3 separate regions of the Homo sapiens genome follow, and regions 1 and 3 are each linked to region 2. Evidence: fine-mapped expression QTL. A gene starts in region 2. Each other region holds a variant in brackets. All regions are shown on one strand. Distances are from middle to middle.

Evidence for each region.
Region 1: its variant is fine-mapped to the expression of ANXA1 in whole blood (TOPMed, PIP above 0.99).
Region 3: its variant is fine-mapped to the expression of ANXA1 in whole blood (INTERVAL, PIP 0.95).

What each region holds. Positions count from the first base shown.
Region 1 is chr9:73,283,742-73,294,914 of GRCh38, forward strand. All of the region lies in intron 1 of LOC101927281 (a long non-coding RNA gene), which reads left to right. Among named protein-coding and RNA genes, the nearest start is that of ANXA1, 140 kb to the left of the region's middle. The variant T/C (reference allele first, on the strand shown) is at 6,491.
Region 2 is chr9:73,146,083-73,157,255 of GRCh38, forward strand. ANXA1 (annexin A1) reads left to right here and starts at 5,783. Exons shown (of 13, transcript NM_000700.3): 1 at 5,783-5,842. RefSeq lists a cis regulatory region at 3,491-3,741 and a silencer at 7,771-8,065.
Region 3 is chr9:73,247,021-73,258,193 of GRCh38, forward strand. LOC105376082 (a long non-coding RNA gene) reads right to left here. Exons shown (of 5, transcript XR_929931.2): 2 at 657-789. Among named protein-coding and RNA genes, the nearest start is that of ANXA1, 100 kb to the left of the region's middle. The variant T/C (reference allele first, on the strand shown) is at 6,040.

The DNA of each region.
Region 1 (11,173 bases), 140 kb after region 2:
CTAGATAGGTAGATAGACAGATAGATAGATAGATAGATAGATAGATAGATAGATAAGAACAGATAGAGAGAGAGAGAGATGATAGAGAGAGAGATCGATCCCATTGGTTCTATTTCTCTAGAGAACCCTAACTAATACACTAGGTTATTATAATGATGGAGGACATACCTATTTGGATACTTAAGGCAGAGTTTAAAACTAATAAGCAGGTAAGAAATACAGTGTGGTAATATGAAACTAAGACAAATAAGTGAGCTAGACAAATCACAGTAAGAGCTATAAGAATGAGAGCATCTGGTGGGCCACAGTGCCTAGGCAGGCTCAAGGAGTTGGTAGGACTTGACAGATGGGACAGGGGAGGGTAGCCCGGTTATGGTATGCAGTAGAGTAGAGGGAGAAGTAAGTGTGGGATGTTTGCAAGCCTCTGAGCAGAACAGCCTGGATAAAGTAGAGTCTTCTGTTAATAAGCCCTCAAGCCTGGCATTCATCCCTCCCTCAAGAGGAGTATCAGAACCCAGAGCTATCTTGTTTTTAGAAGGAAGACACTGTGTGGAGGGAAACTGGATGTGTGGCAACCTCACAGGAAAGGCAAGTTGATAAGATTTTCTTTATGAATTATTCAGAAACAGAAAATTAAGTAACGAGTCCTGTATGATAGTCTAGTTCTATCTGGATTGTTTTCACCTCACAGGGGGATACAAAATAAGATGAGTAGAGCAAAAAGAAAGTAAAATAACCAGTCAGCCAAATATAGCGAGAGAAACAGTGCCTTGGACTCACAGCATGTGGACTCAATGAGAGACGTGCTCCTGAGGGAGCGGTAAAGCAAGCCTTCTGTTCACTGGTGATGCGAACCTACGAGCGCGAACTGCATTGCCAGAGTCCTTTACTGCTCTTTATGCAACTAGGTTAATCCTTTTTGTTGCTTCTTTCTTTCTTTCCGGAAAAGAACTCAGAGAGGATTTTACTGTAGGTAATGTCTGGGAACAGTTCTTTCTTTTATGTGCACTGTGGTGCTTGCTGCTATAAAGCCAGTGACTTAGCCAACTTTGAAGTCATCAGTTCTGATTTGTCACTCAGTAGGTTCAGTTTATGGGGGCAAAGAACCAAGCCATCCCATTCTGGGGAGGTATAGGATGCATTTCTTATGAGCTGCTAAAGGCAGAGGTTCATTTGTTCCATGGTCTCAACTGCTCTAAATAACAGATTAGTGAGATGTTGCACCTGACATTTAACCCTGGGCATTAATTAAAAGTGGCCTGCTGTGATATTTGGGCAGGTGTGGGTAGAAGTAGGCAGTAGTAATACTGCTAGAGAGCAAGCTGTGAAAATCTTTTAACAGCATTTTCACATATTTATGTTGTAGAAATGTATTTTAATGACACTGACATAATTTTAGGGCAAAAGAAATAGCGTATCTCAAAAAATTCAGTTGTATTTTGCATTCAGTTGATGAGGAGGTAAGACACGGTACAGAGTGTTTCACTATTATTCAGCTTAATCACAATGTGTAGTCAATTTACAATATATACCAAGCCCTGTGTTAGGCAGTCTATATGCTTTCTTTTATTGTCATGTTGGAACAACGTGTATTTAACCTTTAGTAAATTTTATTGAGCACTTATTTTGTGCCAGTTGCTGGAGATGTAGCTGTGTACACAATAGATGAGGTTTCTCATGTCAAGGAAGTTAAATTCTGGTCAGCCACAGACAATATTCAAAAGTAGTGTGAACTTTGGGAGGCCTAGGCGGGTGGATCACGAGGTCAGGGGATTGAGACCATCCTGGCCAACATGGTGAAATCCCATCTGTACTAAAAATACAAGAATTAGCTGGGCCTGGTAGTGAGCGCATATAGTCCCAGCTACTCAGGAGGCTGAGGCAGGAGCATCACTTGAACCCGAGAGGTGAAGGTTGCAGTGAGCCAAGATCACGCCATTGCACTCCAGCCTGGGTGACAGAACGAGACTCCATCTCAAAAACAAACAAACAAAAAAATACAAAAAAATTAGCTGGGCCTGGGGGTGTGTGCCTGCAGTCCCAAATACTCAGGAGGTTGAGGTAGGAGAATTGCTTGATCCTGGGAGACGGAGTGCAGCCGAGACCGCGACACTGCACTTCAACCTGCCTGGGCAACAGAGTGAGACTCCCCATCTTGAAAAAAATAAATAAATAAAAATAAAAAAGAAGAGTGGAAGTTCCACAAAGACAGGGGTTTGTGTCTGTTATATCTACGGTTTAACTTCATCAACTAGAACAGTACCTGACAAAAAATATATACAACAACACTGTTTGTTAAATGCCTGGAAGGTAAGAGATGAAGATTAGAGACACTGAATTCTTTGTCCATGGATCCCTATGCCTATAAAATACATAAGCCTTCTAGATATTATTTGTTTTTTCATTTTCTACTTTTACATTTGTTTTCAATTGAGGAAAATTCTAACTTAAAAGCTCAAACCTTTCCCCACATGTTCTCTTGTCTGAATATTGAGGGGATTTTGTTGTTGTTGTTGTCACTCTTGTTAGAGTTGTTATTTTGAGTATAGCTTTCTTACATTTCAATTGAAACCATTATTCACAGAAAGTTAACAAAATGTTGATATCAAAAACAGTTTCTAAAGTACTGCCTATATCACACACATTCTTTTAGGTATAGAAGATACAAAAATGGGCTGGGTGCGGTGGCTCATGCCTGTAATCCCAGCACTTCGCAAGGCCGAGATGGGTGTATCACCTGAGGTCAGGAGTTCAAGACCATCCTGGCCAATATGGTGAAACCCCGTCTCTACTAAAAATACAAAAATTAGCTGGGCGTGGTGGCGAACGCCTGTAGTCCCAGCTACTGGGGAAGTTGAGGCAGGAGAATCGCTTGAACCCAGGAGGCAGAGGTTGCAGTGAGCTGAGATCGTACCACTGCACTCCAGCCTGGGCGACAGAGCAAGACTCTGTCTCGAAAAACAAAAACAACAACAACAAAAAACAAGGCAATAAACAGGTAAACAAATAAGCATGTGATAAGCAACACATTAATAAGTTAAATGAAGAAAACAAAATATGAAAATGTGATAGTGAACAGGGAGAAGTTGATGGTCAGGGAGGGCCTCTCTCTCTAAGTGGTAACATTTGAATTGAGACCTGAATGATGAAAAATACGTAGCTATGAAAGGAAATTATAGAGAATTGTACATGAAGAGAAAATAATGACATATGGGAAAGAGTTTGGCTTCTAAGTTGAAAGAAATATTGCCATTTTGGATAGGACATGGTAACTCAGATGGTATGTGTAGGGAAATAGAGTAAGCAAGGTAGGTGTGAGAGGAGTTTGAATTTTAATTTAATTGCAATAGGAAGGATAGACTTGTCTTTGTCCTGGTGAATGAAAAGATCCAAATTGCACTTGGAAAAAATAACTCTGGATGTCATTGGAATGGACAGAGTGTTGAACATAATGAGAATGACCAGGTGAAAACTTGTTTTTATATTTTGGGCAAGAGTTTATGGTTGAAATAATGAGATATAGTCAGAGAAGCGTTATGTTTTAAAGACAAAAGAGACAGAATTATTGGTGGGTGGGAGAAAAGTAGAGTGTGAAGAAAATAATCAAGGATGATTCTAAGTTTGAATAACTGGTTGAGTAACTGGTTGGGAGGTGACTCAATGGCAGTGAAGAAGACTTGAGAGCAGTGGTATATAAATGTACACAAGGTGGGTGAGAAGAGTAAATACTGTTTGGCTTAGTGTGTTTTCAATGATATTAATGCAAAATGAATATGGTGATATATGGAGATGGGTATGAATCTGGAGCAAAGAGAGATATTAGAGATAAAATTTTCAAAGTCCTCAAAGTGTAGTATTTGAAACCATGAGACTGAATTAGACAACTTAGGAGAAAGTTGTAGGTGGAGAAGAAGGCAGAAAAAGAGATCTCATGGGTGTTTCAATATTTTAAAATCTGGTGCACAGCCAGGTGTGGTGGTGTGCACCTGTAGTCTCAGCTACTAGTGAGGCTGATGTGGGAGGATCACTTGAGCCCAGGAGGTTGAGGCTACAGTGAGTCATAAGGATGCCACTGCACTCCAGCCTGGGTGACAGAATGAGACCCTGTCTATAAACAAATAAAATAAGCAAACAAATAAACAAACAAATAAATACCTGGTGCAAAAGTCAAGAATCTAGCAACTGAAATTGGGAGGTGTCTAGGAATATAAGGTAAAAACCTAACAATATTTAGAAAAAGAAAGTATAATAATAAAAATAGTGCATTAAAGATGTCAGCAGGATTTTTCCATTTTAACTTAAGGAAAAATATGTGGTTAGGTAGGTTAGGGTAATTGGTAAAGAAAAAAAGGAGATATTGGGTAGATTTGCCTTATGAGATTTAGTTATTGCCTGAAGGTCAGTTATAGAATTATGAGAGATTTGAGGAGAGGAGAGAGTATGAAATAATCATAATAAAGAGTGTGAATTACCAAAGATTTATTGTAGGACTGTAAAATATTGGGTTGTCCATTTGAGATTTTCAGCTATAAATTTTAAGGTGACCAGTCAGCAGAATTGTTCAGTTTTCTAGGGTTATATTTAGTATCTTGAGTACAGATGCAGAGTAAGATTTACATAATTTAATTTGAGTTGGGAATTTTTCAAATATGTACAGTAAGAAAAAGAAAGGCAAGGAGGTTGTGTGTGTTTGCAAGGAAATGGATATAATGCTAAACCATGGAGCTGGTGCAGATAAGAAGGGAAGTACAAACGTGAACAGGGTAATGGATATTGAAGAAGTGATCAGTGGATTTTAATTCTCACAAAGATAGTTTTTAAAGTAGCAATATTAGAGTAAGTGATCTGAAAGAATAAAAAGTAATAGGTTGTTTAAAGTCCATGTTTATAGCTAATGTGTGGTATTGATGAATTCTAGGTCTAATTTTTGATCATGTGAGTGGATAGTTAAGGTGGAATGGAGGAAAAGGATCAATAGAGATAAGAATATCAAATAACTTGAAATTCAGGGTGTGGCAATTATGACAGGAGTAATGGAATATTTGATGAATTACGTTGTGGGGGAATGACTGGGAGTTTCAAGGAGGAAAAAATAGGAGAGGTAAAGGATGGTAAAAATATGATATACATATAAATATGCCCGCACATACACATAAATATGATGCATACACCAAAGAAACTGAAATCGTTGAAGGCTGAAGGAGAGAAATAGTTTAGAAGTTGCAATGGTGGATGAATGCCTAGAGAAAGTCAGTTTAATGCCTTCTGCCTGGTACAATACTTAGTACCCCCTTTTATTTTAAGCATCCCAGTGTTAAATGGTCACTGCAATAAAATGATATTTCTATTATCTCCCTGTTTTATATGGGGTATAAGTAAGGAAAAATTAATACTCTGAAAGAGTTTTTAAAGCTATTTTTCTCAGTGGACGGTCATGTTTCTAATAGAACCAGAAGAGGAGGAAACTATTTAGAAGACAGTTTGCAAATATATGCGTACTTGTAGGGGGCTAGTTTGAGAGCTTTATAGATAGCCAAGGTTCTTGGGAGTAAGAGAAGAAATGACTGCTGGGGTCATATTAGGGGATTCACAGAATGAGGTGAAGGGCATCTGTGAGCCTTAGATCTTTCACAGTGACCAGTCCTATACCACAGAGCATATGGAGATTGAATACCTCAGGGTCAGATGGGCGGTCTCACAAAAAAAAAATGTAGATTCTGTTGCAAATGAAATTATGCAGTGATTGAAGATGCAATATTTTGGTGGCCAGTCATGCTTTAAAGAAGGGGCTACCTCACAGGAGCAATGGACTGGACAGAGACCTAATTTCTATTACTTCAAATCACAATGTAGTACATAGCTTAACCCCATCATTGAATTATCCTCTTGATTCATTCACTCATTGATTCATTTATTCAATAAAACATCATTTATGGATTGCTATGTTAACAGTCATGGCAGAATCTGTCTATCTAAACCTAAAGAGTATAAATTCTGGCTGGGTGTGATGGCTCACACCTGTAATCCCAGCACTTTGGGAGGCTGAGGTGGGTGGATCCCTGAGGTCAGGAGTTCGAGACCAGCCTGGCCAACATGGTGAAACCCCATCTCTACTAAAACTACAAAAATTAGCCAGGCGTGGTGGCAGGCACCTGTAGTCCCAGCTACTTGGGAGGCTGAGGCAGGAGAATCACTTGCACTTGGGAGGTGGAGGTTGCAGTGAACCAAGACTGCACCACCGCACTCCAGCCTGGGCGATAAGAGCAAAACTCCATCTCAAAAAAACAAAACGAAACGAAACAAAACAGTATAAATTCTACAAGAGGAAGCTCAGAAGATGAAATCTAACTACAATAAAATTTGAGAGATAAATACCGTAAAGCATATTAGTTGGTATTATTAACATCATCATATTAATGACTGCTATTTACTGAATGCTCATATAGTGTAGGAACTGTCCAAACACTAAAGCCCTGTTTATTGAGTGCCA[T/C]GGGGGCAGATATTCATTACCCACCTTTTGGGACTGACTGGTTGATTAGTAAGTGCTTGGGGTCACTCACTTGGCACACACTTAAAACACAAAGTGCTCTGTTCAAAAATGGGTTGCTTTTACCAACAGAAAAGTCTTTAGGAGATAACGGCCTTTAGTTGGGCCTTAGAATATAGCTACATTCAAGATGTAAGTGGGGAAACACGAGTCAATGTGGAGGTGATTTTTGGAAGGCATTTCTATGAAACAATGAGATAATTATTTTGGCTAGATTATAAGCTGGTGAAAGGCATGGGTGAGAAATAATACTCAAAAGACATGTCATGCCTGAAGCCATGCCATATATGCATTGAACATATAAATATCCGCTAAAAAACAAGGAAAAAGAAAGAAATCATAAATTGTGCAGCAATAGAACATTTTCAGAAATCCTAATCCATGTCACCTTCCTCTCTCCGCCGACCATAGCTGCTATTTCTACCTTTTGCCATTCCCCAAATTCAAGCAGGTGGCTTGATCTTTGTTTACAAAATCTTAAGTCTTATGTGGAATAAGGAGAGGATTTGGGAAATAGACAATGTGATTCCATCAAAGTCATAAAAGGACAAGGATTTTTCCTAGTCAGAAATAGAGGGAGGAGAGGCAGGGAGAAGAGGCGTATGCAAATGACTGACAGCTGTGGCAGGAGGTCCAGAAGCTACCTGTGAGGAAGAGCCAAATGTGGCCAAACAAATAAATTAACAGTGATGGGATATCTGGACCTAAAAGAATATGATGGCTTTGAGGTTGGATATTGTGATAGGGTGATAAAAGACTCGAAGCCTAAGTGTCCTTTACCCTCTATAACCCCAAGTAACTTTGATAGAGACCTTGAATAGGGGTAGACAGAAGTATTAGGCTGGTGCAAAAGCAATTGCAGTTTTTGCCATTAAAAGTAATGTAGAAGTAACTAAAAGCAATGGCAAAAACCGCGATTACTTTTGTGCCAACCTAATACTAGTAGATGGAGTGGTAATCAAAGTCAAGAAAGACAAAGTTTCTCACATGTCTAGTATGATGGGAAGAAACTTGAACATAACATTAATCTATTAAAAATCAAGTTATAGAAAATAAAGCCATAGTTTTTAAATATCAAAATTTGTTGGCTGATTAGTGTCAGCTGTTTCAAAATATTCAGGCTGTATTTATCAGGCTAGGCTAGCCTAAGATGGGGCAAGAAAAAACAAAAAACAAAAAACAAATCTCAGTGCCTTAACCCAATACACATGTATCTTTCTGCCTGCTTAGAGTCTGATATGGTTCAGCAGCCCTTCTTTATCTTGTGGAAAAATGAAACACTCTAAGGTTACTATTGAGAAAAAAGAGGTAGGTAGACAAAGCACACTAGTTTCTAATTGCTCCAGCCTGGAAGACACATTGTTGTCTTGCAGTAGTTAGATAGTTTTAAATTAAATAGTAGAGGGGAAGGGGCAGTGAGAAATACAGAATAGCGCATAGATATTTGGTTGGCACCAACCATCTGTGACCCAGAGACCCCAGCAGTTGGACAAAGGAGAAATCTTGTTTCAGCTTCTGCATTGCAAATACTTCACTTCTTCGAGATAAGTGCTATTTTCCTTCCTGTGGCAGAGGGCTTTTTGAATCCATGGTTCTTGCTTTCTGGACTCTCAGAATATTCCATGAAGTCCATTTGTATGTTCAAATGATGCTTTAATTCTTCTTCCCCCTCATTTTCTGCCTTTCTCCCCCATAAAAGTTACAAAACTAATGAAACAGTTAATTGTGTGACATAAAGAAAAATTCATCAATTGCATTTCAAAATTTGTGTTAAAATTGAAAATCTGGGGTTATTTAATTATTGCTCTAATAATTCAATAGCATACTGTTTTAAGACTATTTTTTGGGCCAATAATTGAATTGAATTGCAGCAAATCTTTATCAGTTTGATGTCTGTAAATTTCTTCTACTAAAAAAAAGTCTTTGCAGTGATTGTACTAATATGGCATAAGGGTGGCATTTAAGATTGTCCCTTGAGGAGTAAAGAAAGAACAGACCATTTCAGACACTTTAAAACATAGGATATTCTCTTGGTGTCTGCAATTTATGCTCACACACTGCAAGCCATCCTCTACTACCATGGACATGTGCAAAAAACAAAAATGTCATGGGTCCCTGTAAATGCTAGATTATCTCTGTCTTGAGAATTCCATCTTATTAAACTGATTTGACATTGGATTAAAACAACTCACCAAACAGTGTGTTATAACCAGAGGCAAGAGGGCATTATAGGATTAACATTTGGTCCTAAGAGAGGTTAAGTTTCCAGCTGATTTGTCAGTGACTCAATTCAATGATCTCTACTGAGGTCTTTTTTTTTTTTTGAGAGGTCTTTTTTTTTTCTTGCTCTGTCACCCAGGCTGGAGTGCAGTGGTGCGATCTCGGCTCACTGCAAGCTCTGCCTCCTGGGTTCAGGCCATTCTCCTGCCTCAGCCTCCCGAGTAGCTGAGACTACAGGCGCCCACCACCACGTCTGGCTAATTATTTGTATTTTTAGTAGAGACGGGGTTTCACCGTGTTAGCCAGGATGGTCTCGATCTCCTGACCTCGTTATTCGCCCGCCTTGACCTCCCAAAGTGCTGGGATTACAGGCGTGAGCCTCCTGCCCGCCCCCCCCTTTTTTTTTTCTTTAATTATAACCTAGATCCTGATTCTAGCAAATAATATAGGGAAAATATGTATGTATGATTTGCATGATTTGTTGATTTTGTAGCAAAACTTTTCCCCAAAATGCAGATCTATGTAAATAAGCCTCTACATTCTGCTTTTAATGTGCTATTATTTCAGACTTAAAGTATAAAGAAAAATAAGAGATGAAAGGAGAGATAAAACAAAAAAAGGAATAAATGAATAAATAAATGAAAGAAAAATGAGAAAAGAAAGACTGTACATTGCCATACATTTTTTTCTTCACTGATGATGCAAGTTATTGCCTTATTCTTGGTTTAAAAAAAATCTTCAGGTGGACTCTACTAAATGATTGTCATTTATCACATCAGAGAACTTGGCACATAGGTTTAGATAGTTTATTGTGTTGTATGCTGCTGATAAATTTACAAACACAGCAACTGTCACCCTCTCTCTCAAATTCATTTTCCATATGCTGAGTGGTTTTAAAAAAATATTTGGCCTGTACAAGTTTTTCCTGGCTAAATTGAGCTTGTTTGAATATTAAATGTTTTAAGAATCAGAAAGAATAAGATATTTATAAATGTACTCTGAGATATCAGCAAATTTGTTCAGATGAGAAGAATCATTCTTTGACAACACAGAATTATTACACCCTTTTGTACAGCAAAGCTATTGAGGAGTTGAAGAATGGATGTTAAGTGCAGCAATGCCTAAAACTGGGATATTGGCCCAGGATTTTTATTCTTTTGCCACTTACAGATGCCAGCAAGCTTATCTGCTTTAATATTCTTCAGCATTTAATTAATCTGAAGAGTAGCATGAAAATAACTTTTTTCCAGATCAGTTTGCCATCTGACCAATAGTTTATATTACACAGTTGGGATTTCCCATTAAACAGACCTTTACCTGTTGCCTGGCTTGCTCTGACGTTGCTAAGGGTATTATTCTTTCAGCTTATGAATGATAGACTATACTTTCCTATCACTGAGGACTATACTTTTTCAATATCATTTTAGTAACTCCATTCATTTATGTTATAGGTCAGTCTTCTTTGAGATCATTTCACCGGCAGATAGGGAAAGTTAGAATTGTTCTTTTATAAAAGAATTTTATAACTTAGGACTTTTTTTTCCATTCCATCTAATACTGTTACATTTTGAAGAAAATAAAAGATTTTAAATAATAGTTTCCTATTTCTACTCTCTACTGGAACCCATCACAGTGTTTGAAAATATTGAATTTTGTTGTTATTCTGCTAATAACACTCTGAAGTTCCAACTTGGTGGGTCAAGTGAACTCCATGAAATATGCTAAACACTGTGTGGACATCTTCCTTCATATGTAGCTGCCAAGTTATTAATATTTTACACTTTAAAAGAAAGGAAGTATTTCTTTCTGACCCTATCTTAGTTTTCAACAGGTATTTTATGATGGATTTAAGGTAGAGATATGAAAGTTACATTGCCGTAACCAATGGCTTCATTTTGGTCTCTCTAGTTTTTGTTATTGTATTAAGATTCTGTGGTTTGACTGTATTCTTCTAACTTCTGTATTCTTTCTTAAATATTTATTTCTGCCAAGGGCTACATTTCTCTGAATTGTGAAATTTTTGAGCCATGTTTCAACATCACTTATATATGTCAGAATCTCAAATCAGTTCATTTTCTGGATGTTCGTGGTGCTAATATGAATTTAAAAAAAGAAAAGGAAAGCAGATATAGGGAACCTACAATTGAATATTATATTCAGAGCTTTCTTTTTTTTTCTTTTAAATTATAATATGAATAACAAAGAAAGCATGCATTTGGCATCTGTAAATGATCACTTTATTAATCAATATTAAAAACATTTTAAACATTTCTGAATCTGATATTTTTCCAAAGTAAATTTAGAGACTTGTATCCCTTAAGTAGTTTTCCTTAAGTAGTTTCAAGTACTAAAGAATTCGGCTTTTGGAAATGTAATACATGGAAAGAACAAAGACATGGGGAGAGA
Region 2 (11,173 bases):
CCTACACTTAACTCCATATCCTCAGCTCCTATGGTCTTCTCAAACCAATTTCTCTCCACTGTGTTTCCAAAACCCCTTATCCTTAAGGCCACCACCTCTTTCTTAATTTCCAAGTACAAGAGCCATTTCTAAATGACTTCCTTTTGGAGCCTCTTTCTAAGTGACCATTTTGTATCCTTTTGCAATGTTTTTCACAGCTTTCTTCCTGACACTTTCACCTGCAGTTGCGTCATCAGGATTACATTATCTTGGCTTGCTTTCTGCCCCTCTTAATTATCTTATTCTGTGTGTTTTTTATTTTAATAGTTGCTGCCAAATGACTTTCAAACCAACAAGCAAACAAGCACCAGCAATATATGAGTGTATCCTTTTCTAATACCATTTATTGCTGGTAAAGGTGTTACAGAAAATTTGAGGTCATCACCACCCTGATGGGTATATATCCATATACTGTCATTTCTTTAAACAGTATTTCCCTCACCAGTGTAAATTTGAACAACTTTTACTGTTTGTTTGGCAATTTGGATTTGCATATCTGCTGACTCGGAGGCATTTGACTGTACTCAGGTTTCATCCATTTTTGTTGTTTGGATTGCTTGCTTTACAATTGATAAGAGCTCCTGGTACACTGTAGATAGTAACACTTTGTTAGTGCATGTAAGGAAATATGAAGTTTTTGTAAGAATCTACTGATTTTGCTTATTTTTTCCACTTGAGGATTTTTATTTGCCTATATTAAAAACACCTCTCATTTCTTTTATAATAACAGGTTTTAAGCCACAGATTAGTCTCCCACCACAGAGATTATAAATGTTATTCTCAGAATAGATTATCCTGAATAGTGATCTTTTGCAAGTTACTTTTAACAAAGTATAACCATATTTGACTTGTAAATGAGAAAATGAGATTTAGGATTTATCAAGTTTCTCTTTGAAAGAAAATTTCATTTTTCTATTGGATAATAATCTATTTATGATAAAGTTAACCAAAATCACCCCAACCAATGCAAAGCAAACATTTATTGTGGCTTGGTCTGGAAAACTTTCATTACAAATTTAGCTACAAGATATTTACAGAATATCTTGTAAAGTTTATTGTTTGTTTTATATATTTACTCCCATTTTAATTCCAGATCCATCCAGATCCATGTTTTTTTATTTTTTAAGATAGTATAAAGATCCAGTTTTTGTTTAACTATGCTAGTTTAAAGAATTGTTTTAAATCACTTTTTAAACCTATTGAGTTAAAATAGAAATTGAAAAAAAGTCATTATTAAATTTAAGGATATTAATCTTTGGTTCGTGTCATAAATCCATGGAGTTGGCAATGATTATGTGAAGACTTGCTGTATTTTTTGTGTTCTGATTACATAAGAATTTTTGAATTATTATATTAGAAATTATATGGTCCTGGTATATCTTAGAAAGTATATAATCAAATGAAGTTCCTTTTTTTCATAATAGACTCTAGTTTTTAGAGAAATTTTAGGTTTACAGAAAAATTGAGCAGAAAGTACAGAGAATTCTCATATACTCAATTTCCCGCTGCTCTTAGTTTCCCCTGTTACTAATATTTTGGATTGATGTGGTCCATTTGTTATATTGGTGAACCAATATTGATACATTATTATTAGCTAATTGCCATAGTTTACATTAGGGCCTACTCTTCATGTTATACATTTCTATGTGTTTTGCCAAATCCATAATGTATGCATACACCATTACAGTATCATACAGAATAGTTTCACTTCCCTAAAAATCTCTTTTTTTTTTTTTTTTTTTTGAGACATAGTCTCGCTCTGTTGCCTAGGCTGGAATACAATGGGGCAATCTTGGCTCACTTTAACCTCTGCTTCCCAGGTTCAAGTGATTCTCCTGCCTCAGCCTTCTGAGTAGCTGGGACCACAGGCGTGCACCACCACGCCCAGCTAATTTTTTTTTGTATTTTAGTAGATGGGGTTTCATCATGTTGGTCAGGCTGGTCTTGAACTCCTGACCTGATGATCCGCCGCCTCGGCCTCCCAAAGTGCTGGGATTACAGGTGTGAGCCACCATGCCCAGCCCACTTCCCTAAAAGTCTCTTATTTATTACTCCTCCCTGCCACCAACTCCTGGCAACCATTGATCTTTTTACTTTCTCTATAGTTTGCCTTCTCCAGAATGCATCTCATTGGAATGAAACAGACATAGCCTTTTCATACTGTCTTCCTTTACTTAGCGATACTCATTTATGATTCCTTCATTTCTTTTCCTGGTTTAAAAGCATTTCTTTTTATCATTGAGTAATAGTCCATTACATAAACGTACTATAGTCCATGTATTCACTTACCTCTTGAAAAATATCTCAGCTGCTTCCAATTTCTGGTAATTATGAATAAACTGCTATAAGCATACATGTGCAGGTTTTTGTGTAAACATGTTTCCTAACTCATTTGGGTAAATATCTAGGAGCACAATTGCTGGATTGCATTGTAAGACTCTGTTTATCTTTGTAAGAAACTGCCAGACTATTTTAAAACAGCTGGAACCTAGAAAGCAGAGTTTGACCTTTTGACCTTAACACATATCTTCATTTTCCTTCTGCAAAACTTCTTGAAAATTATTGAAGTAAAATTTGTTATTATAGCGAATGTGACAAGGTCTTATTCTCTTACTTTCGAATAATATAGAGAGGGATATGGATACTATACTCAGGGATTAAACAAAATAACTTGTGCAATACAAAATTACTAATCCTAGCATGATCCTGATGTTGGAAGTATACTAGTTGAATCACCAAGTCATTCGCTGACTTTTCCTAAGTCACACAGTAATAGATACTAAGCCACCACCAAATTTGAGTTTTTATCTTCTCTAAGATTTTCCACCCACAAAAGGAAATATAGAGAGGCAGGGAGGTAAGATCTTTTTCCCTAAGTGAAGTCCAACAAAGGTACCTCCCTTTGGCTCTAGCTACCCACATGACTACTTCATTAACCTGAAAGAGTAAAATTTGAAAAAAAATTCTGTCTTTAATTCATGTGAATAACTGAGGAATAATAATAATAATAATCTCAATAACTCAGTGTGTGTGTGATAATTATTTGCCATGTTTAGAGGCAAAGGGAAAACATTTAGAATGTTAGCCCTCAAAATGCTTTGACCTGGGGACACATGAGAAACACACACTAAAATAATGATTTTTGTTGGCTGTGGATAGGGGGTATGAGGAAGCTGTGGGGAGATTTTGGAATATCTGTGAAATGCTGTTCTTGATCATTCAGAATATACTCTTTCTTCCATATAACAAGTAATGCTTAGATAGAGTTAAATGTAAAGGATGAGGGGACAGCTTACTAAGATCAGATATTTTGCAAGAGTCTTATGCACAATGAGATGTATGTGAGAGACTCCATATTTCCTCTCCTTGTTTTGTTTTGTTTCCTCTTCACTATCAGATTCTAAACCAAATGAGTGAAAATAAACATGCTGTGAAAAACGTAACATATAGAGATTGATTTTAACTGTCTTTTTTCTTTCCTTCTCTTTCTTTATTTTCTCTGTTTGTAAAGTAAGTGGAGCCGATGAATCATCATCTTCTAGAAACAGCAAGAGTGGTGAGTCATTTCTCTGGAGTATGTGGCATTTCACCCACAGAAAGCATTTAACCCATGATTATCCCCTCACTGTTAATGATAACATATTTTACTTGTTCTTTTATTTCCATAAATCTACTCGACATTATTATTATGCGGAGAAAAAGATTCTGACAGATTATTCACAGCAATATACCTACATGATTAGTGGCTTTCTTTTTGTGTTATGTTTGGGAGTTTCACTTGCCTTTAGTGTTACAGCTGGAAGTTAATTTTGGAAAAACATTCTTTTCACTTTTTTTTTCTTAATTCTGCTACAATTATCATATTTATTGTTGCTATTTTAGGTTTGCCTATGTATTACAAATCCAAACATATAAAATAATTCCATTCAGTTTATGGCACTGGTAATAGCAGCAACAAAGCAAAATGAGACTATACATGTTTTCTAGGTTGTTATATTTTATAAAAAGTAAGTGGAATTTTTTCTTCATTTCACAAGAGCATCACTGTGCAGGAATGTTCCAATAGTTCCATTACCAGAGTTAGGAATACAAACGCAAATTAAAGAAAAAAAGAAAACCAGATTTTGTATAATCATCTTATTCCTTCTCACCTGATGACATAAATATGGTATTAGAAAGTTAGTCTACATCTGTCAAGATCAATTTGCAATAATATCAATTAACTTAACTTGTTAGCAGGTAACTAATTAATTTTCAACTTACACATATGATAGTAAAAACATATATTGACATTTTCTTAAATATTTAGATTAGATGATCATCCTACTTCAGGATATGTTGACTTCATTGATATTGGCATCGAGCACTTAGAATGTATTATAAAATACTGCCAATCTTTAGAAAGTATTTTCATTAACTTCCTAAACTTCATGTTTTTTATGTGAAATATCTATGAGGAAAAGAGGAAAAAGAACAAACCACTAAATGCAGCATAAATTGAGCCATAATGCTGTGAGATTTTACACCTGTGCACTTTAATGGAAACATCATATAATACTTTGTAGGGTTTAAAGAAGAATGAAAATGAACCACTATGGAAGTTACCAGAACCAATTTTCCTCCATTGGGTGGGAAATTTCTTATGGAATGTGTTCTGTAATAGTTGCTGCTCCATTAATCCTTTCATTTTATAGGTCTAGTTCCTTGTTTTGGTGTTCAACTAGTCTACAATGTCAAAGATGTGTATCAAAATGTATATATAACTGATCTATATTACAGTTTATATATATAGTTCTATGTAACTGACTCTATTTAAAAGAATTAATGTAGATAGGCCTTCTGATGTCAATGCTTTTATTGAATGTCATAATGATCAAATTTTTGGCATTACCTTTGTTCAAAATTTTGAGCCAATCTGGAACTTTATTACTTCTATATTTCTTATTTATAACAACAAGCTATATCTAGGAACAAAAGTCGTTTATTTTTTAAGGCAAGAAAAATATAAATAGAAAATTATTCGGCACTGTGTAATGTTAAAATTTACAAATATATGTTATTTCTCCATTGTCACAAGAATTCTAGTGGGTAGACAACTTAGATAATGCTCCTATATACAAAAGTAAAAACAGCTAGGCATGGTGGCTCACGCCTGTGATTCCAACTCTTAGGGAGACAGAGGCAGGAGGATAGCCTGAGCCCAGGAGTTTGAGACCTGCCTGGGCAATATAACGAGACCCCATTCTCCACAAAAAGCGGGGGAAAAAGACAACAAAACAAAAGTAAAAACAGGTTCAGAAAAATTAAGTATGTCCCTAAAGTCACAGAATAATAAGTGATGGAGGTGGAATTCAAATGTAATATTTTGTTTGTTGGTTTGTTTAGTTTTGAAGGTAACATACTTTTTAGTCTACAACCTATTTAACTACAAAAGTGTGCCAATCACTGGTATTAGGATTGGGGCAGATGTATACTCTGAAAATAAAAGTGCAAAATAAATATCCCATCTGGAAATAAAAGTGCAAAATAAAGAGGGAGGAAAAATCAGCCCTTCCATTTCTTTTCCTTTGTAATGCCAGTTGAATTGGTTTAGTGAGTAGTTTTGCAAGACTTGTTTCACTTTGTTTTTGGACATAGCTGAGCCATGTACTTCAAACAGAAGGCAGCCAATTACTAACTTCTGGTTGCTAGGTGTGGCTTCCTTTAAAATCCTATAAAATCAGAAGCCCAAGTCTCCACTGCCAGTGTGAAATCTTCAGAGAAGAATTTCTCTTTAGTTCTTTGCAAGAAGGTAGAGATAAAGGTAAGTCTTGGTTTTCCTTTTAGTTAGTTTTGGTTGTTTTGAAAACTTTTCTCATCACTATGTTAAATGTTACTGCTTCTACAGGATTTATGGTTAGTTGCATTTAACATGATAAGTCATTCATAAATCTTTCTGTAGAATTACATTGGATATTTATATTTTAGGAATCACAAATTACAATATTTTTGTTCTACTTAGTTAACAAATACAAGTAAAAATAAGATAAGTTTGCTTAATACTGGCTCATTGTACTCTTGGTAAGTTACCATGAGAAAGAAGGGAAGAATGTGCTTTCCCTCTGGTAGCCTTAAAAGAATGTGTTTTTCCTTTCCTTCCCCTTGAAATATTTCTTCCCAAGAGCTGTGTGTTTTACAGAGAAATCGTGATGGGGGCTGCTTTTTGGGGGCAAGAACAAAAGTGATAGGAGTGGGCTGCAGGGAACTGTTTCAAAATAGTAGGACTTTCATAATTTATTTTCTTCTTTTGTAAGGAAAACAAGATAGATTCAGACCTCAAAGTGCTAATCATGCTCTTTGTAATAAACATTTAAAAATATATGTTATATTTGCTTATGCTATTTAAAATAAGAAGGTCCGCTTATTACTTTTTTCATTTAAAGAGGGTGTGGCCACATTCCTTTTCTTGTAGGCTCTGTGTCATATACAGTCTTTTCAAGTGCTGGCTGGAAAACCTAAAAAGAAGGGAAATACTTTCTGGGTAGTGTCAGATACATTATCCTAGGGGAATGTCAGTGAGGCCCTCCAACAGCTATTCCACTTGATTGTTGCATGAGCTAATGGCCATAAAACTCCTTAGAAAAGCACAAAGCAAAACTAAAGAAGAGTATTTACTAGTGTTGGATATATTTGTAAAAGTGAGATTACAAATCATGTATCTGGCTATTTTTTTCTTAAACATGTTCCTTCAAGAATTTTTCTGTTCGTTCATTTTAAATATTTATTAAATGTTCTGATTTCTTATGTTCACTGCTAGCTAATTAACAAGGATGGAATTTTTCTTGCCTTGGTTATATCTAAAAGATTGTAAAAACTTTGAGAAAGCAATGTTGCCCTCTTTCCACAGGAGTATTTTGGTAGCTGTAAGAGAATGCACATTGCAAATGACTCAAATGTGGTAAAATGTTGGTTTCATAATTCTGAAATGGCCTCTTCCCCAAAAGTGACAGTAACACCCTAGCTCCAGGCTCAACCACATCCAGCACATAGCCAACATTTAACAGATGTTGACAAAATAGTTAATAATAATATTATTAAGGAACCAGCCAGAGTTTCATGCTTATTAAATACTTTTTCAACCAGAAGGTCTGCAAAGGTTGATTTCTGAATATGACGTTAGCTCTCTCTAGACCTATTAATTTACGACATTTCAAATCAGAGGTAAACCAGCAGACCTATTATTTTTCAATGATAAACTATAAACAGTTTTTTGAAGTCAACTATTTCCTTTTCCTTTAAAATTGGACAGAATTTCATCAGGAAGCTCAGAACAATCCAATTTATATAATGCCTTCCTTCATTATGCTAATTTTCTTCATCTTCATCTACTTGAAGTAATATTTAAGATTGGCACTTCAGAGCTGTAAATGGATCTTAGATGATAATTACTTCAACATTCTTATTTTATAAACGAAGACCCTCTGGAGAAGCTAAATGTTTTTCTTGAGGTCAGATCGCCAGATAATCAAGAACCAGTATACTTCAATTTGTATTTTATATCCTATAGTTGTGGGTAGAAAATGTTCATTAAATTAGTGTAGATATGTTTTTTAAAATATTAGCAATGATACATGATATTCATTCAATAATACTTATTAACATCCTAAATTCCAGGCATTTTGCTAGGGATTGGAAGTACATACATAATGAATATTATTATTTGTATGTTAGCACGGGCCTCATGGCCTGCTCCTGGGGAATATAAACAAGCCAATGGAAAGTGATAATACAGAAAGGTGGGGCTGGTGTAGGGGTGAAGTCAGGATGCTTTGGGAGAGCATGGAAGGTCACCGAATCCAGTGCTGAGGAACTAATGAAGGGTTTCTGAAGAACGTGATGAGATCAATGCTGATGAGTCACTTAGAAGTAGCAATTAGTTAGGCAAAGGGAAGTGAATGTGGAGGAGGAACAAGCATTCCAGGCAAGAAGAACACCCTATCGAAAAGCCTGGAAGCAAAACATTAGTGAGGCTACCTTTCATAAATTGCTTTCTGTAAGTCATGCCATTGTGTAGTCTTAATTGCTTTCTCTCACCAGGGAAGGTGTGGGAAGGACTTGTGAAATACATATTCGAGGAAAAACTATGCACAAGGCCGTGCATTTAAAAATAAACTCCCTAAGGCTGGGGTGAAACCTGCTACGGTCTGCGCAAGTTGACTGTTAATGAATTTGATTCTCAGGTGTGAGTGATTAAAAGAACACTGATCATGTCATTTTCTTTTTGGTCACTAATTCCCTCCCTCCCTTCTCTTTCTTTTCTTTTTTCTTTTCTTTTCTTTTTCTTTCTTTCTTCCCGACAGAGTCTTGTTATGTCGCCCAGGATGGAGTGTAGTGGTACAATCTCGGCTCACTGCAGCCTCCGCCTCTTCCTGGGTTCAAGTGATTCTCCTGCCTCAGCCTTCTGAGTAGATGGGACTACAGGTGCACACCACCATGCCTGGCTGATTTTTGTACTTTTGGTAGAGACGGGGTTTCGCCATGCTGGCCAGGCTGGTCTTGAACTCCTGGCCTCAAGTAATCTGCCCACCTTGGCCTCCTAAATTGCTGGGATTGCAGGTGTGAGCCACCATGCACAGCCAAAATATATAACACTTTGGAATCAAAAGGGATGGATTTATGTCTCCATTCTTGCCACTACTAGCAGGAAGACTGCTTGAAAATAGCACTCAGTTTTCCCAGATAGAAACTGAGGATAATGATTAAAGGCTATTATTCCAAGCAAGGGTTAGTCATTGCTGTTACTATCATTGCAAAACTCTGATAGTTCTAGATTGTAACCAGGAAGATACAATCAACCACAAAACTCAGCTTCCTCTGTCACAAATTCTAGATAGAGGTAGCCTTTCATGAGGCTGAGAGATGGAAAAATGAAGCGGGGGGACTCTCTTAGGACACATAAATATGCAAAAAAATTGCTACGCTTTAGAAAGCTATACATTCAAATCATAGATAAGCTGACATTAGTAGGCAGTGCATGTTCACAAAAAGACCATTAATTAGAAGAAATGTGAAATATTGTTAATTTCCTTATAGATTTGCCTATGTATAAATGGCCAATTTCACCGTCAATGAGCTCATGCTAAGTACTGAAATAAACTTAGTTTTAGAGCTTATCTTTGGTTAGTTGAAATCTGTATTGAGTTAGTTGAAATCTATAAGTTGATAGAACAGGCTCTTTAAAATCTATTGCAAGCTTTATACACTACAAACAAAAAGATAGAAAAAAGAAAACCTTTCATGAACTCATTGGCTTAGGCAGGTTTTCATGCAGAGTGTAGGTATTGAAGAGTCAGAACGGCTTAAGGATAGAATTTGGCCAATATATAAAAAAATATATATTTGGTATTTGTTAGTTGTATTATAATTATTCAGAAGTTCAGTTAATACGTGCAGTTGGCTTTGAGCCCTTAACCAGCTGTATGTGATAAAATCTGTTTCCTTTAGAGCAATTTCTTATATCCTGCCTTGATGCTCCTGTCTTTAATCTTTGCTAAGAGCTGGTGGTGAATTTGGCTGAATTCAGATTCCGTTTTTCTCTAATTGATTTCTTGAAGAAAATTCTCTATTGGTTGCTTTTCTTTCCTAGATTATGCTTTTAGTCTATCCAAATACTTCAGGCTAGAATGTAGGAACTTAGAAGATACAAATCACAAAGCTGTCTCCTCTAGGGATGCTCTCTCTTTCAAATAAGTGACTTAAACAACTTATTTTTGTTATCTTGTGTTATGTAATTAATATACCTTTTCCTGGGCTTTCTCTGGCTTTTTTTTTAAATGGACATTATTCAAGTATTTTTTAGAAGTAAAAAAAAAACAGTACAGTAAAGTTTTTATAACGTTTATTTTGAAGTTGTCAGAGACACCTTTAATATTAGACTGGACAATATCTTTAGTCTTTCTTTTGCTTTCTTTTGAAGTTTTTATTTGCTAATTGAAAAGAATGGAATAATAATAATAATAATAATAAATAAATAATAATAATAAATAATATAAATAAATAAATAAATAAATAAAATAAATAAATAATAAAAACATGTTTTTATAAGTGATGGAGTAGTACTTTGCCAAGTGATGAATTTTAACACTCATTTTGATGATTCTTCCTTATCAAAGCCTTGGATGAAATGATGAAAATGGAAATTTTGAGTGCCTGAAGCTGCTAGAATTGCTTTTAAAGTATTGGGTGTGCCAATTAAGAAGGTGGAATATGAAACTCCATGTGGCAACCGCAATTGCATGAAACTAGACTGTAATGGGAACTAAAACCTTGTGCAAAATTGCGGGTTGTTACTTTATCAGGAAGCAATTTTAAGTCTATCAATTATATTTAGGAAACAGGCTGCTTTAAATGAATGGAAAAAGTATTGGTTCTTCTCACAGATGACAGAATAGTAATAAGAGCAATCCCATGCGAATTAAGTGGGGATGATTTCTGCTTTGGATATTATTTTCTTCATGCATTCAGTGTTATTACTTGCAACTCCAGTTACTTTTTAGCAGGTGAAAATGGAAAGAGTTTGTCTGAACATGCTGTTGAGGAATCAGTTTATGGAATCAGTTTATGCCTCATGAGTCATTTATCTTCATATCAAGAATTTAAAACTGCCAAGATTGTCCTCCCAACCTCTCTCACAAACATTCATGAGAGTAGTCTCTAGAGGGGTGAAACAGAATGGTGTAGATAGACAGATCAGTGTAGACCTTGAGCAAGGCCTCTGAAAAACATCCCCAGACTAAAAGGATCTGTGATGGCATTTTGTGTGTGTGTGGCCAAAACAGAGAACACATTAATTTTCAATATACTTAAGATCTTAAAAATATATGTCTCATTAAATAAAAATATTGCCAAGTCATGATAGCAATTCAAGAAATTTCCTTTAAGATAGAGTTTGCCAAAAGAACATGCATGTTACAATTGCACCTCTAGGCTTCCTGCTACAACAAAAAAATCCAGTATAAAATAATTCTTTTCTGGGTTTTTTGTGTTGGGTGGGAAAATATGTAGGACTACTATTTAGACAGCTCAAATAGGAAGAAATGTGAAGATAGCAATTACTTCAATGCTGAGTACTTTTATATCAAGAAATAGAAAAGGA
Region 3 (11,173 bases), 100 kb after region 2:
AAAATTAGGGCATGCAGAGTGTAAATAATTTGCTTTGTTGTGGAATTCAGTGTGTGCTGAATCAATAGGGTGATTACTCCAAAGTTGACTATTGAATACATGTAAATAACAGTTACTAACATTTGTATTATTAAGAAGTTTACATTATCATTGTATAACCATCATCATATTTTATCGTACAGACTTTTCATAATATTCAGGTGAGATACAGTAATCGTTATCTACTCATTTTGAGAAAGTTGGAACTGAGGAGCAGAAAAGTTTAAATAACTTGGCTACGGACACCTAAGTTCTCCAATCAGAACTTGGTCTCAAGTCACCTGGACTTCAAATCTTCCCTCCACTCCTTCTTGGTTAGTCTTTTAGCATGATCTTGCACTGTGAACTCTGAAGACAGAAAACAGTTAACTCAGAGTGAATGTGAATATCTACCTCTGGGGTCAGTTTAACTGCTAGTGTGGTATTTTTTCGTTTTGCTCTTGTTCCCTGCACTGTAATTTTTGTGTCCTGCTTCTCTCTCATCCCCTTTCTCTCTTACGCATTTCCTTTTCCTTTGGCTTTTTGTGATAATGTTATATACTTGCTAGAGTGAACAGATTTATTTCCATCATTGCAGTGTGATAATTAAAATATTTTAAACAAGAAATTAACCTCACCATTGCCTGCACTTTTTAAAAGTATTTTTTTCTGATTAAAGCAGGAAATTCAGGCACAAAAGGAGAGGATACTCATGCTTGTCATCTTCACATTTCAGGTATTTGGGTGTTATTGCTCCAAGGGGTGTTCCTGCTGAAAGACACAGAATGTATATGTCACCTCTATCCATCAGGTCAAAAGATCTTGCCAACAACAATATTCACATTAATGCCCAGTTGGTCTCCCTGTTTACAAGAGGCGTTCTTGTGAAAGGCCCTACTTTTTAGATTAAATATTTCCTGTGCCAAAACATTCTGCATCAGTGAGTTAAAACAGACTATAGTCCAAAAGGATATATCCTGGCTGTGAGCACAGATTTGGTATAATTTGAGTTTTTTCTTGTTTTATTTTTAAAACAAAATATATCGGGCTTATGATTATTAGAGAAACTCAGATTTAAGGCTCAGGAAAATGTAAATGACAGCTAAAGATAATTCCAAAATCTTCTCTGTTTTCTCCAATACCTTGACTAATAGATTGTCTCATAAAACTTTATTTTTCTTTTCTTTTAGTCTCCAAAGGTCTATTTTTCTGCAGAAAGCTAATGAATCCTGACAGAGTTTCTGAAAAGCTAAACATATATTTTTTGTGCAAATTAGAAAATTTGGCACAAAGCCATACATTTCCAGTTTCACAGGGTAGAGCTGTGCATTAAAACCAGCAGGCTCGGTGTGGTGGCAGGCTCACACCTGTAATCCCAGCACTTTGGGAGGCCGAGGTGGGCAGATCCCTTGAGCCCAGGAGTTTGAGACCAGCCTGGGCAACATGGTGAAACCCCATCTCTAGAGAAGACACAAAAAATTTGCCGGGTGTGGTGGCATGTGCCTGTAGATCCAGCTACTCTAGAGGCTGAGGTGGGAGGATTACTCGAGCCCAGGAGGAGGAGGTTGCAATGAGATGGCACCACTGCACTAGGCCTGGGCAACAAAGCAAACAAACATCTCAACAAGCAAACTAACAAAAAACTCAAACCACCAGCTCCCTTTTTACAAAACGATGTGTGTGTGTGTGTGTGTGTGTCTGTGTGTGTGTAAACTCCTTGTTTAGTAGTTGTGATGAAGTAGAGAGGGAATTGCAAACATCTGACAAATAGGTTTCATTGAGGTACATCTTTGTATATATTATCTCATCTAAATCTCAAAACAACCTATTTAGTTTGGAATTTTTGTTTCTATTATACTGACAAAGAAGATAAGGCACAGAGAGGTAAAACAATTTGTCTAAAGAAACATACTCAGTAAATGATTTAATCCCATCTTAGTTGACTGAAAAACCAAAAACTCTCCATCCTAACTTCCTGCTTTCCTGGGAAACACTTTATAAGCCCAGGAGGCAGTTATTCTTTTTACTCCTCACAAGAACGATGTAGAACAAATGAATTTTGACTCTTAAACTATAGCATATATGTAGCATTTAAAAATTCATTTCTTGAGCTTCAAAGCAATCACAAGGCTAAAAATTTATAGTGGCAGCTGACATTTCCTTGTAACGGACATGATAATAAATATTTTTAGGGCCATATAAGTTTGTATTACATACTCTTGCTTGCTTTTGTTTATTTGTTTTTATTTCACAACCCTTTATTAAAATAAAAAAATTCTTAGCTGAGTGACCATACAAAAACAGCCCTTAGACAATATTTGGCCCACAGTCATAGTTTGATGACCCTTGCTCTGTATCTTGATTTTGATGGTGTTTATATGACTACAGAAGTTTGTCAAATTCCAAAATTTTACACTTAAAATTGTAAATTTCAAGGAACATAAATTACCTTTTAATGAAATAAATGGGGGACCATCATAAACAGTATGTTCTTTCACCACAAACATAGAAATTTTAAGTAGCCTTACATCTATTGATTAAATAGAATTTGTAATTAAATAAATTCCCATAAAAATATTCATATCCAAAGTAGCTCATCAGAAATTTTATCAAACATTTAATAAACTAAAATTGCCAATATCACACAAACTCTTTCATGGAATAGTGGAATGAAGATACTTTCCAAGTCATTTCATGAGGCCAATATAACTCTGACACCAAATCTAGGAAAGGATATTATATGCAAAGAAAATTAAAGACTAATATTCATTGTGAGCATAGACACAAAAGCCCATAACCAAACATTGTCAAATTGGATTTGGCAATATCTAGAGATGTTAAATAATCCTGACCATGTGGCAGTGGCAATCCCAGGAATGGCAAGTTGGTTTATTATATGGAAATCACAGTGGAACTCACACATTAACACATTAAAGAAGAAAAATTATATTTAATTAAGTAGATTCTGGAAAAGCACTTAAAAATTCAGCACCTGTTCATAATAAAAACGCTCCACAAACTGGGGACAAAAGAGAACTTTTTTCTTCTAGGCAAATAAAGTCTGTGAGAAATCAACATTAAATATATTTTACTCATGAAGAAGGAATGAGCATTATATCCCAAAATAAGGAAAAGATAAAGATGTGCATTTCTACCACTTCTAGTCAACATTGTACTGGAGCTCTTAATGTAGTAAGTAAAAAAAAAAAAAAAAAGGCATACATTTAGAAAAGAATAAATAATAAAATCTCTATTTGAAGATAATATAACATATGCCTAGAAAGTTATAAGGAGGGAGCTCATGTCTTTGTGGGACTCCATGTATATGTGCATAATTAAAATTGTTTTCTATTGTTTTTTGTAAAAAAAAAGTCATAAAGAATAAAAAAGTGAACTTTGCAATGTCACAGGATGCAAAGAAAATATACAAAGATAAATTGTATTTCTAACCAACAACAATAAGCAATTGGAAAGAAAATAAAAGAGATGCTATATTTATGGATTATAAGGCTCAGTATTGTTAAAGTTATTAAAATGTAAATTCGCCACAAATCTATCTTTATATTCAACACAATCCTAACCAAAATTATATTTGGCTTTAAAAAAAGGCAATTTGCTGTGTTCAAATATATATCAAAATGAAAATGTCTTAGAACAGTTGGAGGACTTACCCTACCTGACTGCCATACATACTATACAGCTATGGAAATCAAGAGTATGACACTAGCAATATGATAGATGAATAGATCAATTGAAAACAATTGTGGATCCTGATATAGACTCACACATACAAAGTCAAATTATTTTTTGTCATGGGCTCTAAAACAATTCAACAGAAAAAGGGAAACAACTTTAGCAAATGGTGATGAATCAAGTAGATAGGAATAAAGAAAATATAGAACCTCAACCTCAATTTGACTCATACACTAAAAAAAACATCTCATATACATGAGGTATATGATATCTAAACCTAAAGGAAAGTTTAAAATATTCGAGAAAAAAATCTTCATGGGCTTAGAGTGGTAATAATATATTAGCCTTGAACAGAAAGCCCAAATAATAAAAAAAAAGCACTTTATCAAAAGCAAAATACTTTGTTCTTCAAAAAATCACCAGTAAGACTGTTTTAAAAAGCAAGTCATAGATTATGAGAAAATATTTGATATACTTATACCTGACAGAGGATGTGTAACCAGCATATAAAAAGAACTCTTAAAACTCAATAATATAAACACAGGCATCCCAACATAAAAAATAAAAATTGAGATTCTATATCTTGAGAAAATATCCTTCAGAAATGAAGGAGAAATCAACACATTCCTAGATGAAGGAAACATAAGAAAATATGTTGCCAGGAGATTTACCCTACAGGAATGGCTAAATAAAATTTCTAAAAGTATAGGAAATAACAAAAGAATAAAGCTTGTGACATCAGGAAGAAAGACCAATACAGTAAACAAAAAATATGGGTAAATACAATAGGCTCTTCTCTTGAGTGTTCTAAATTATGCTTGATGGTTGAAGCAAAAATTAAAACACCAATGTTGTTCTAAATATTTGTAGAAGAAATATCTAAGACAATTATAAATGGGGGAGAATAAAGAGATGTAAAGGGAAGTAATCTTTCTATACTTCACTAGGACTGGTAAAATGAGAACACGAGTAGACTGTGGTAAGTTACAGATATGTAACAACATAATAACTAGTGCAACCACTAAGACAGCTATACAAAGAGACACAGTCAAAACACTATAGATAAAGAAAAGGGAAATTGTAAAAAATGTTTTATATGATGATTTATATGTTTTATATGTGTTGTGGGTTTCCACAGAAAGGGAGGAAAAAGAAGACATAAATGAAAAGCAGAGAGAACAAACAGAAAACAAAAATAAAATAGCTGATTTAACTCTAAGGTATCAGTAATTATATTAAATTTAAATGGTATAAACATAGCAATCAAAAGACAGAGATTAACAGAGGGTATTTACAAATACAACCTAACTAAATGTTGCCCATAAGAAATTAACTTGAAATACAACAATATAAGCTGTTGAAAGTAAAAGGATTGAAAATATATCTTACAAAAATTTTAATAAAAGGAAAGAGAGAGTGACTATATTGATATTATATGAAGTAGACTTCGGAGAAAATAAAATTATTAAAGATAGAGAAGGAGATTAATAACAAGAAAAGTTTAAATCCATCAAAAAGACAGAAATTCTAAATGTATGTACACCAAAGACAGATCAGCAAAATAGGTGAAGCAAAAATTGATCAAACTGAAAGGATAAATAGACACATACATAGATATAGTTACAGACATGAACACTACTCTCTCAGCAATTCATGGAATAAGTAAAGAGAATTTCAACAAAGATATAGAAGGGCTCCACCAATAAAATCTAATTGACATTTATGGAACACTGTATTTTCTTTTCTTTTCTTTTTTTTTTTTTTGAGATGGACTGTCACTCTGTTGCCCTGACTAGAGTGCAGTGGTATGATCTCAGCTCATCGCAACCTCCACTTCCCGGGTTCAAGCGATTCTCCTACCTTAGTCTCCCGAGTAGCTGGGATTACAGGCACCTGCCACCACCCCTGGCTAATTTTTGTATTTTTAGTAGAGACAAGGTTTCACCATTTTGGCCAGGCTGGTCTTGAACTCCTGACCTCAGGTGATCCAACCGCCTTGGCCTCCCGAAGTGCTGGGATTACAAGCATGAGCCACCGCACCCAGCCAACTACACATTATTTTCAAATCATAACTATACCAACATAAACCATACTCTGGGTCATAAAACCAACCCCAACAACTTTAGAACAATTGAATTTATACAGAATATATTCTCTGATACAATGGAATTAAAATACAAATCAAAAACAGGAAAATTACAGAAAAGTTTCCAAACACTTGGGAACACATTTATAAATAATGCATGGGGTCAAACAAAAGTCAAGAGAATTTTAAAAATTCATTGAATTGAATGAAAATGAAAATACAATATAACAAAATTTGTGAGA[T/C]ACAGCTAAAACTGTGCTAAAAGGCGAAATTATAGCCCTAAATGCATACATGGGAAAAGAGGAAAAGTTTGAAACCAATAACCTAAGCTCCTACCTCAAGAACCTGGAAGGGAAAAAAAAATTATCCCAAAGTAAGCAGAATGAAGACAACAATAAACAACAGAAATCAATAAAATGGAAAACAGAATAGAAAAAATCAATGAAACACAGAATTAGTTCTTTGAAAAGATCAGTAAAATTGTCAAAATTTGTCATTAATAATTTTCAAAAAGAAACCTCCAAACCCACAGGGTTACATTGGAGAATTCTGTCAAATTTTTTTAAAACAACATCAATTATACACAATATCTTTCAGAAAAAAAGAAGAGTGAACACTTACTTATCTATTTTATGAAGCTATTGATGTGGTTTGGCTCTGTGTTCACACACAAATCTCACTTTTTTTTTTTTTTTGAGCTGGAGTCTCACAATGTCGCCAGGCTGGTGTGCAGTGGTGCAATCTCGTCTCACTGCAACCTCCACCTCCCCAGTTCAAGCGATTCTCCTGCCTCAACCTCCCAAGTAGCTGGGACTACAGGTGCCCACCACCACGACTGGCTAATTTTTGTATTTTTAGTAAAGATGGGGTTTCACCATGTGGGCCAGGATGGTCTCGATTTCTTGACCTCGTGATCCGCCCACCCTGGCCTCCCAAAATGCTGGGACAACAGGCATGAGCCACCACGCCTGGCCCCAAATCTCACTTTGTATTGCAATAATGCCCATGTGTCATGGTGTGGACCCAGTGGGAGGTAATTAAGTTATGGATGTGGGTTTTTCCCATGCTGTTCTTGTGATACAGTATAAGTTTCATGAAATCTGATGGTTTTATAAAGGAGAATCCCCGTGCACATGTCTCAGGTCAGCTGCCATGTAAGACATCTTTTTGCTCTTCCTTCATCTTTTGCCATGATTGTGAGGCCTCCTGAGCCATGTGGAATTGTGAGTTTATTATACCTCTTTCCTTTATAAAGCACCCAGTCTCAGGTATGCCTTTATTAATAGCATGAGGATGGACTAATACAGTAAATTGGTACTGGGTAGTGGGGAGTTGCTATAAAGATACCTGAAAATGTGGAACTGGGTAACAGGCAGAAGTTGGAACAGTTTAGAGGGCTCAGAAGAAGATAGAAAACTGTGAGTAGATTTGGAACTTCCTAGAGACGTGGAGTGCTCAGAAGACAGGAAGATGAAGGAAAGTTTGGAACTTTCTGGAGACTTGTTGAATGGCTTTGACCAAAATGTTGAGTGACGTGAACAGTAAATTCCAAGCTGAGGTGGTCTCAGATGGAGATGAGGAACTTGTTGAGAACTGGAGCAAAGGTAACTCTTGTTATGCTTTAGCAAAGAGACTGGTATCACTTTGCCCCTGCCCTAGAGATTTGTGGAACTTTGAACTTGAGAGAGATAATTTAGAGCATCTGGTGGAAGAAATTTCTAAGCAATGAAACACTCAAGATGTGACTTGTGTACTGTTAAAAGCATTCAGTTTTATGTATTCCCAAAGATATGGTTTGGAATTGGAACTTATGTTTAAAAGGAAAGCAGAGCATAAACATTCAGAAAATTTGCAGGCTGAAGACGAGAAAGAAAGGAAAACCCCATTTTCTGAGGAGAAATTCAAGCCAGCTGCAGAAATTTGCATAAGTATTGAGGAGCTAAATGCCAATTGCCAAGACAATGGGGAAAATGTCTCCAGGGCATATCAGAGGTGTTCATGGCAGCCCCTCCTATCACAGGTCTGGAAGCCTAGGAGGAAACAATGGTTTTTTGGGTTGGGCACAGAGCCTTGCTGCTTTGTGCAGTCTTGAGACTTGTTGACCTGCACCCCATCTGTGGCTAAAAGGGGCCAACATAGAGCTCAGGCCATTGCTTCAGAAGTTGCAAGCTCCATGCTTTGGTGACTTACACATGGTGTTGGGCCTGCAAATCAGAGAAGTCAACAATTGAAGTTTGAGAACCTCTGCCTGGATTTCAAAGGATGTATTGAAATGCCTGCATGTCCAGGCAGAGGGGTGCTGCAAGGGCAGAGCCCTCATGGAGAACCTCTGTTTGGGAAGTACAGAAGGGAACTGTTGGGTGCCAGCCTCTACACAGAGTCCCCACTGGGGCACTGCCTAGTGGAGCTGTGAGAAGAGGACCACCATCCTCCAGATCCCAGAATGGTAAAGCCACAGACAGCTTGCACTGTGTGCCTAGAAAAGCCACAGACACTCAATGCCAGCCTGTGAAAGCATTCAGGAAGGGGGCTGCACCCTGCAAAGCCACAGAGGCATAGCTGCCCAAGACCATGGGAACCCACCTCTTGCATCAGTGTGACCTGGATGTGAGACATGGAGTCAAAGAAGATCATTTTGGAGCTTTAAGGTTTGACTGCCCTCCTGGATTATGGACTTGCACGGGGCCTGTAGCCCCTTTGTTTTGGCCAATTTCTCCCATTTGGAATGGGTGTATTTACCCAATGCCTTAACCTCCATTCTATCTAGGAAGTAATTAACTTGCTTTTGATTTTACAGTCTCATAGGTGGAAGGGACTTGCCTTGTCTCAGATGAGACTTGGACTTTTGGGTTAATGCTGGAACGAGTTGAGACTTTGGGGGACTGTTGGAAGGCATGATTGGTTTTGAAATGTGAGGACATGAGATTTGGGAGCGGCTGGGAGCAGAATGATATGGTTTGCCTCTGTGTCCACACCCAAATCTCACCTTGAATTATAATAATCCTCATGTGTCATGGGAGGGACCTGGAGGGAGGTAATTGAATTGTGGGGGCAGGTTTTCCTGTTCTTGTGATAGTGAAAAAGTCTCACAAGATCTGATGGTTTTATAAAGGGGAGTACCCCTGCAAATGTCTCTTGCCTCCCACCATGTAAGACAAAGCTCTTTACTCTTCCTTCATTTTCTGCCATGATTGTGAGGCCTCCCCCGCCACATGGAACTGCTAGTTCATTAAACCTCTTTCCTTTATAAATTATCCAATCTCGGGTATGTCTTTGTTAGTAGCATGAGAATGGACTAATACAGCCATTATTAGTCTGATTCTAAAACTAAGCAAATACAGTATGAAATAAAATTACAGGCAGATATCCTTCCTGAATATAAACATAAAATTCCTAACAAAATATTAGTAAATAGATTTCAACAACATATAAAAAGATTATATAATATGACCAAGTGGGGTTGTTAAAGGAATATAAAGCTGATTCAATAAGAGGCTCAAGAACAATCTTATTATCACATCAATCAATGTACTAATAGCACTTGACAAAATTCAATACCCATGTTATAAAAATGCACAGAAAAATTGGAATAGAGTTAAAATTCCTCAACTTGATAAAGAACATATACAGAAAACCCACAGCTAATATTATACTTGATAGTGAAAAATCAAATGCATTTCTCCTATGACCAGAGCAAGACAAGCATGTCTGCTCTCACCACTCTTATTTAACATCAAGGTGAAAGTTTTAAACAGGCAAGAGAAGTAAATACAGAAAAGAAGTAAGTACAACTGTCTCTATTTGCAGATGACATATTTGTCTACATAGAAAATTCCAAGGAAGTCTATAAAAGATCTTTCAGATCTAATACATGAATTCATCGAGTTTGCAGGACACGAGATAAACATACATTAATCAATTATATGTATATATACTGGCCATAACCACGTAGGCACCAACATTAATACTACAATTCCATTTATAATTACTGAAAAAAATACTTAGGAGTAAATCTAACCAAACATCTATAGTGCTAGTCTGCTGAAAATAACACAGTGATGATGGAAGAAATCAAAGAGATAAGTAAATGAATAGATAAATCATGTTCACGGATTGGAAGACTTAATGTAATAAAGCTGTCAATATTTCCTAATTTGATGTACAGGTTTAAAATACTTATCAAAATTTCAGGGAGATAATTTTGTAAATATAGACAGAACTATCTTAAAATTTATATGAAACTAGAATAGCTAAAAACAATTTTGAAAAAGAAGAATAAATTGAAAAAATATATCAAAATTATGTATCTACAGTAATCAAAATTTTGTGGTATTGCTGGAGGGATACACACATAGTTCAATAGAACACAGTAAAGAATCCAAAATAGACCCACACATATATATACAACATCTGTATGATTTTTGACTAAGTTGCAAAAGCAGTTCAGTACAGGAAATATAGCCTTTTCAACAGCTAGTACTGGAGCAATTGAATATCTACAGGCAAAAATAAAATTATAAACCTGGACCTAACTATTATATCTTATGCAAAAATTAGCTAAATAGGCCACTACTAAAATGTAAAATTTAAACCATAGAACTCTTAAGGGGAAAAAACAACAGAGGAAAATTTTTACAATTTGGGGCCAAATAATTTATAGATTTGACACTAAAAGTAGGATTCACTTAAAAACTTGCTAAGTTTAACTATATCAAATTTGAATGATTTTGATCTGTAAAAGACCCAGTTAATATAATAGAAAGACAAGCTATAGAATGGGAGAAAATATTTGCAAAGGACTAGTGTCTAGAATACACAAAGAACACTCAAAACTCACAATTAAAAAGCAAAGAATCCAATTAGAATGTGGGTAACAGATATAAAGGGACATTTCAAATAGGAGTGCATACAGATGGCAAACAAATATGTGAAAAGATGGTCAACATCACTAGTTATTAAGGAAATGTCAATTAAAACCATAATGAGATATCACTAAATACCTATCAACATGGCTAAAATTATGAACAGTGACAACAAATGCTGGAGAGAAGGCAAAGGAACTGGATCACTTCTATATTGGTGGTAGAAATGTAAATGGTATTCTCACTCAAAAAAACTGTTTGGCAGTTTTTAAAAAAAAAATCTAAACATGAAAGTACCATGTAACCCAGCAATACCACTCCTGGGCATTTATCCCAGAAAAATGAACACATACTCACACCAAAAACTTTGTGTGAGTATTTATAACAGCGTTATTTGTGGTAGCTCATATAGTAGGAACAACTCAAATGTCCATAATAGATGAATGATTAAATTAACTATAGTGCCTTCATACCATGAAATACTACTCAGCAATATAAAGGAATGTACTATTGA